2 linked regions of the Homo sapiens genome follow. The protein of the gene in region 2 interacts with the protein of the main gene of each other region in a pairwise test. Each region holds a gene or a part of one and is shown on either strand. Other genes may lie near its edges.

The links. Proteins that work in one complex are often made in the same cells at the same time.
Region 1: the proteins of MYNN (region 2) and FDXACB1 interact in binary tests that used the Homo sapiens proteins (3 or more experiments, as listed by UniProt).

Annotation. Positions count from the first base shown.
Region 1 is NC_000011.10:111,873,514-111,876,289, forward strand, and holds the end of FDXACB1 (ferredoxin-fold anticodon-binding domain-containing protein 1), read right to left. Parts: intron 2,592-2,776; coding exon 1,409-2,591; 3' UTR 543-1,408; downstream 1-542.
Region 2 is NC_000003.12:169,783,340-169,786,915, forward strand, and holds part of MYNN (myoneurin), read left to right. Parts: intron 1-137; coding exon 138-221; intron 222-1,282; coding exon 1,283-1,369; intron 1,370-3,076; coding exon 3,077-3,339; 3' UTR 3,340-3,576.

The sequences.
Region 1 (2,776 bases), on a different chromosome or scaffold from region 2:
GTTTCCATCCAAGTTAATGACACTTCCAATCTTCTAGGTATTCAGGTCAAAAACCTAGTAGTCTTGCTTAATTCCTTTATTTCTCTAACCCCACACCTCTCTCACCCACACACAAATGTTTAATTCATCAGCAAGTCCTTCCAAATATTATCCAACCCAACATTTTACCACCTTGGTCCAGGTCATTATCTCATTTGCATTACTGCAATAACCTCCTAATTTGTCTCTGTACTTCCATTCTTGCCTTCCCAAGTGCTTTTCTCTAAGAATAAATAAGACAGTCATGTCTCTCACAGAATATAATCCCAAATGTGGAGCCTAACTATTAACAGGAGCATACATTACTTCACATTAGAGTACCGCATTCTGCAGAATCCTAAGCTAATTTTCCAGTGTCCCTTAGAGATACTTACAACAGAAGGCCCCAAAATCCAGAGAGGCAAAGTTTAATCACAGTTGAACGATTACTGTTAAAGACTAGGGAAGAAGTAACAGAAAGTAGCAGAAAGAACATGGGCTTTAGAGTCAAACAGACCCAAATGTTAACCCTAAATCTGACACTTTATTCGTTCCATGACTTTCAACCACAGAATTAAAATGGTGATGATTATAATAATAATACCAAAATTAATGTGGAATATTTGCAATTTCCCAAGCTAATAAATGTTAGTCTGATGCCAAAAACTACTCTCATAAGGTGATTTAATGAAATGATACAACAAAGTTAAGGGAAGAGTAATTGACAGTGTGGAAAACATATTTATATTTGATGAGACACTTAAGTTCTACTGCCTGTTCAACAATAGAGCATCTAAAGTACAAGATGCTGTTTTGTTTATTGTTTTAGTCACTTCTCGGGACCAAAATATTACACAACTCCAAATGTCACCAATCACATTATAATCTATAAGTTTCAGTAATAGAGTCAAGGTATCTTTAAGATCAACTAACAGTAGGCCGGGCGCGGTGGCTCACATCTATAATCCCAGCACTTTGGGAGGCCGACGCAGGCAGATCACGAGGCCGGGAGATTGAGACCATCCTGGCTAACACGGTGAAACCTCGTCTCTACTAAAAATACAAAAAAAAAAATTAGCCAGGCGTGGTGGCAGGTGCCTGTAGTCCCAGCTACTCGGGAGGCTGAGGCAGGAGAATGGCATGAACCTGGGAGGTGGAGCTTATAGTGAGCTGATATCATGCCACTGCCACTGCACTCCCGCCTGGGCGGCAGAGCAAGACTCCGTCTCAAAAAAAAAAAAAAAAAAAGATCAACGAACAGTAGCTATGGTCACAAAGTAAAAGATTTTACAAAAACAAAAATCCAGAAAGGACTACTGGTTGCAAGTTGGTAATTTTCCTCCACATCCCCCGCAATGAAGGATCACACTGCAGAAAAGGATTTACCAAACTACCGAGGTATAACATATAGGTGTTGTTGAATCTCCTTCCTAAACTGGGACTGCATTGATGCTACTTGCTGCTGGGTGAGGGCCTTGTCACAGGTCTGGTAGGTCAATCTATAGCAGAGACTGACCTGTTGAGTCTTTGGATGCTGGAAACGGCTAAGAAACTGTATGGATATAATAGTGTCCTGAGACACTGCTCGGGCCACAGTGTGAAACTCTAGTTCATCAAATCCTTTCTTCTGATCTATCCAAAAACTAACATCATGCACATAACATGGAGGATACAGAGAATGACTTTTAAAGGGTTCTATTTTGCCAGGGACAAAATTTTTCAGGAAACGGTTATCAAACGTCCACAACATTCTCCAGTCAGAGATACACCAGACAAGCATGGCTAATAAGTCCAAGTTCATAGACACAAACACAAAACACTGGTCTTTATGTATAACACTAGTGGCAGATGTGATAACAGACCCAATAATTAGATCCTCAGTACAATCTGGGCTAAAATTATGAGTCTTCACACGAATCATATAATCCTTTCCATTTGACTGAAGGACAAATTTGACTAAACTGCTCAGCTTAGAGCTCTCCGGCAATGTCTGGGTCAGCAGGCTATCTAGAATGCCCTTCAGATGATCCAGCAGTGATTGAAGACAGCCATCCTTCAGATTTTGATTAACCCCAAGGATAAATAAAGTTTCATGAAATGCTGGCATTGTGAAAGGCAAAATGTGGCACTTCTGAAAGACAGGTCCACTGAGGATGTGCAGAGAACCTGAGAGGAAGTCTGGTACTTCGATGACATCCTGAACATGCACTAGGAGAGAAGGTCTAAGGCAGATCTTGGCCTGGCCACAGGTTCCTTCACAAGCTTCTTCTTTACCATCTCTTCCAGGATTCTTGAGAAGGCTAAGTTCTGAAAATGACACTAGAAAGTCTTCCACATCTTGTGATGTCCCACCAGTCAGGGACTCAGAATTTGAGTTATCTTCATGGAGACTAATCCAAAAAGCAGCTGACAGAAAGTCACAATTCCAGAAAGGAAGAACACTGGTACCTTCCTGTGGCAGCAAAGGGTAGGAACACTTCAGCCTTTTTAGCGGGAAAACTTTGCCTAATTCAGCAATGAGTTTCTCATTTATGGTTTTGATAGGATGACATGAAGGTGCTTCCAGGAAACCCCTGTTTAAACACACACAAAAATAACTTTTCTAACTTAAGATAGTAAATAATTATAATGTAGCTAGAATTAAAAATACAAATAGCTGGACAGAAAAGAATTATCTTTAAATTGATCTTGAAAGGAAACAAAGAAATCATCTACCATAAGGAGAAACAGACGTGTATTTCAGAACTCTGACAGCCAC
Region 2 (3,576 bases):
AAAATACCTCTAAAGTACAATATAGAGAGATTTTAATTTAAATAATATTCCAGAAAAGCTTACTTTAGATTATTTGTAATTGATAAATATTATATTGGTATAGTACACCACTTCGCTATCTTTTATTTTCCATCTAGGTGAAAAACCATACATATGTGGTATTTGTGGGAAAAGTTTTATTTCCTCAGGAGAGCTCAACAAACACTTTCGGTCCCATACAGGTCTGTGTTTAGGGAGAACGTATTATTTTTTGTTCTCTCTTAATTTCTTTTTATGTAAACCTTGACTTTTAAGCCATTATGGACTATATGGTATTTAGTCATACTGTACCTATAGCAATATCTTAATGTATAAATATCAACTTATTTGCTTATTTTGTTTTTTTTTTAGTTGTTTGGAGTATGAATTAAATTTGTTAAAGAATTGTGTTGGTTTTCCAAGAAATATGCCAGATAATCAATAGTTTTTAAATGATTTGGATTAAATTGCACAGATATACCAAGAAATGAAAAGGAATAGGTAATACCAAGATAACATCAGATTTTCTTACTAAACAGTGTTTAGTATGCAATTTTTAGGAACAAATTTTAATTTTGACATGCTTATTGTAAAAAGTAGTTTGTAAATTGTATAAAGAAAATATTGAATGTAAAAAATTTTAAAACAAAGGAAAATGCCACTTTGAAAGAGTACTGTTCTGACATTCTCTTTTTAAAAATTCCTTCTCATAATTCCTACCTAGAATAATGTGAGTACTTAATAGAGATTTAGTAAGTTTTTGGTGACTTTATATTCTGACGCGCTTTAGTTTACACCATAAAGCACTGAACAGTTATTTCCAAAGAAGTGTAATATTGTAGCATGCTGTCAGTATTTTTAAGGATTTTCTAATTTGCCAGGTACCTGAGAGCAGAAACCATGATTATTACACTTATTTTCTCCCAGCTGTATCTCTTAGCCAGTGTCTGGCATATAACTGACACTCACTAAATGTTTCATAGAAATACAAGAGTAGGCTTTTGTTTGTTTTAGTTTGCAGATACATTTCTGTTTATGAAAATGCTCAAGTTTTCTTGAGATACAGATTTTTTGTATAAAGGAGTGTCTAGGTTGTATAGAATCTTTCATTTCACTATATTATAACCAGGTGATTAAAGTGACAATTTGAAACCAAATTTAAACACTATAATAATTTTTGCCTTGTGTTCATAAACATTGATATTTTTGTCTTAGCTAGCAGCTTTTAAAATATTGAAATTTAAACTTCTAATTTGTTTTTCAGGAGAAAGACCATTTATCTGCGAATTATGTGGAAATTCTTACACAGATATTAAAAATTTAAAGAAGCACAAAACAAAAGTCCATTCTGGTAAATGCTTGTGTTTTGTTTGCTTGTTTGTTTGTTTTAATTTGGTGCTCATATTAGTGCTATTCCTTAAAATGCTGAGATGAGATTTACATTTAAGCAGTTTAAATTAGATGTCTATTTCAAAAACTAGGTATATACATGTGAGGAAAGTAGCTTTTTTGCAGAAACATTCACTCTGGATTTTTCATATTGAATCTCTTATTTAAAAAAAAAAAAAAAAAACTTGAAACATTTCCTCCTTTGAAAACCTGACTTAATAACAGTCCCAAGCATGAAGGAACATATAAGCAAGCTATGTGTCACTGTTTCCCATACTGGAGTCTGGATAACTCAGGGTTTACTATGGTTATTATGAAAAAAAAGGGGGGGGGGGTGGTGTTATCATGAACACTAGTCCAGAAATGTTTAAGAGGAAATAGGGAAACAGGTAGCCCTACATTGTTATAATATATAAAAATGGAAAGCCAAACAACAAGTTTTGAGTCTATTGGTTAAAGTGAATTCTTGAAAAAGTTTCCCTGTGCTTACCATTTTATTCCGTCATTATTCGACATGACACTAGGCCCTTCTGGTGTGTAAATACTTAAACATCGTAAGTATTAAGTTAGAAACATCTAAAAACTGCAGTAAGTCATTAATTTAACCACTTGTTAAATTTCTGTAAAGTGTACTTTCAGGGAATATGAAGTTAAACAAGGCATAGTTCTGGTACTCAAAGCACTTACAACCTGGTGTGCGAGACCAGAAACCTAAATAAATAATTAAATAAACTAAATAAATAGGGAAAATGTAGGGCATAATCGACACAAAAGTGCTAAAGAAGATACTATGTTTTTCTGAGGTAAGTACTAAAAAAAACTTAATTTTAACTTGAAGGATGGAGAAGAGTTCAAAGATGGAGATGGGAAGAGAGGATTCATTCCGGGCAGAGAACACTGTAGAGAGTCAGTGGGACAAGAAGGAAACCTTAGCTAGTTGAAGTGAAGAGTAGTTTGGGAAGAATACAGATAATTACAATTTTACGAAAGCAGTTTTGTCTGCGTGACAAGGACGGTGAAACCAAAATCATGTCAACACTTTAGAGTAACGGAAGCATGTTAAAGCCATTGGAAAATTTGAAGGCAAAAGTACATCTTTAGTCAGTGTGCTGATTGCTCCCTTGAGTAGAGCAGAATTTCTCACCTCTGAAAATATATGAAAGTGCCATACATACTGTTCTGAACTCACAGAATAATATGAACAACTTATTAAAAACATTCAGTGAATGAAAAGAGTATTTCTTATCACTGTTTAATATTTTGAGGGAGTTAAAGAAGTATAACGACATTTACTCTCAAAGAATTTACAGTCTGGTTGAGGATTCAAGGCATACCTGAGTAGAATGTTAAATGGCAATAAGAGAGATAGATGCCACAAGGCAGTATATGAAAATTGACAAATGTGTGATTAAGCCGATATAACAGCTCACCCTGTTTCATTCTTAATCAAGTCCATTTTTTTAAATGGAGTTGGTGCTTGAACTTAACCTTGAGGCCCAGATTGAATTTACATAGATAGTGAGGAGGGCATATGTACAAAAGAGAAACCGCTTGAGTAAAGGTATGGTGGTTGGAATGTAATTTCTGGGAATGGTAAGTACATTAGTCTACCTCAGGGGTTTAGTTTTGTTTTAAAGATAATGTAGATTTTTTTTTCCTTCCATTCTAGGTGCAGATAAAACTCTAGACTCCAGTGCAGAGGATCATACTTTGAGTGAACAGGATTCCATACAAAAAAGTCCTTTATCAGAAACTATGGATGTGAAGCCTTCTGATATGACTTTACCATTAGCTCTTCCACTTGGGACTGAGGACCATCACATGCTTCTGCCTGTCACGGATACTCAGTCTCCTACATCAGATACATTGTTGAGGTCAACTGTGAATGGGTATTCAGAACCACAGTTGATTTTTTTACAACAATTATACTGACTTTGTAAGGAATATGGAATTGCTAAGATATCATTGGTAGCAAACATCTCTGGTAAGGTGCATATATTCATATTAAATTCCCATTCATTTGAGTTGTGACCATTATTTTTCATTCACTGAAGTAAAAGCACCTGATGCTGCATCACAACTGCAATGTTTGTTTTTATTTTTGGCTTTATGTCTATACTCCACAGAGAGCTTTTTAAGTAATGAATTATGTAGCACTATTTTGGGTGG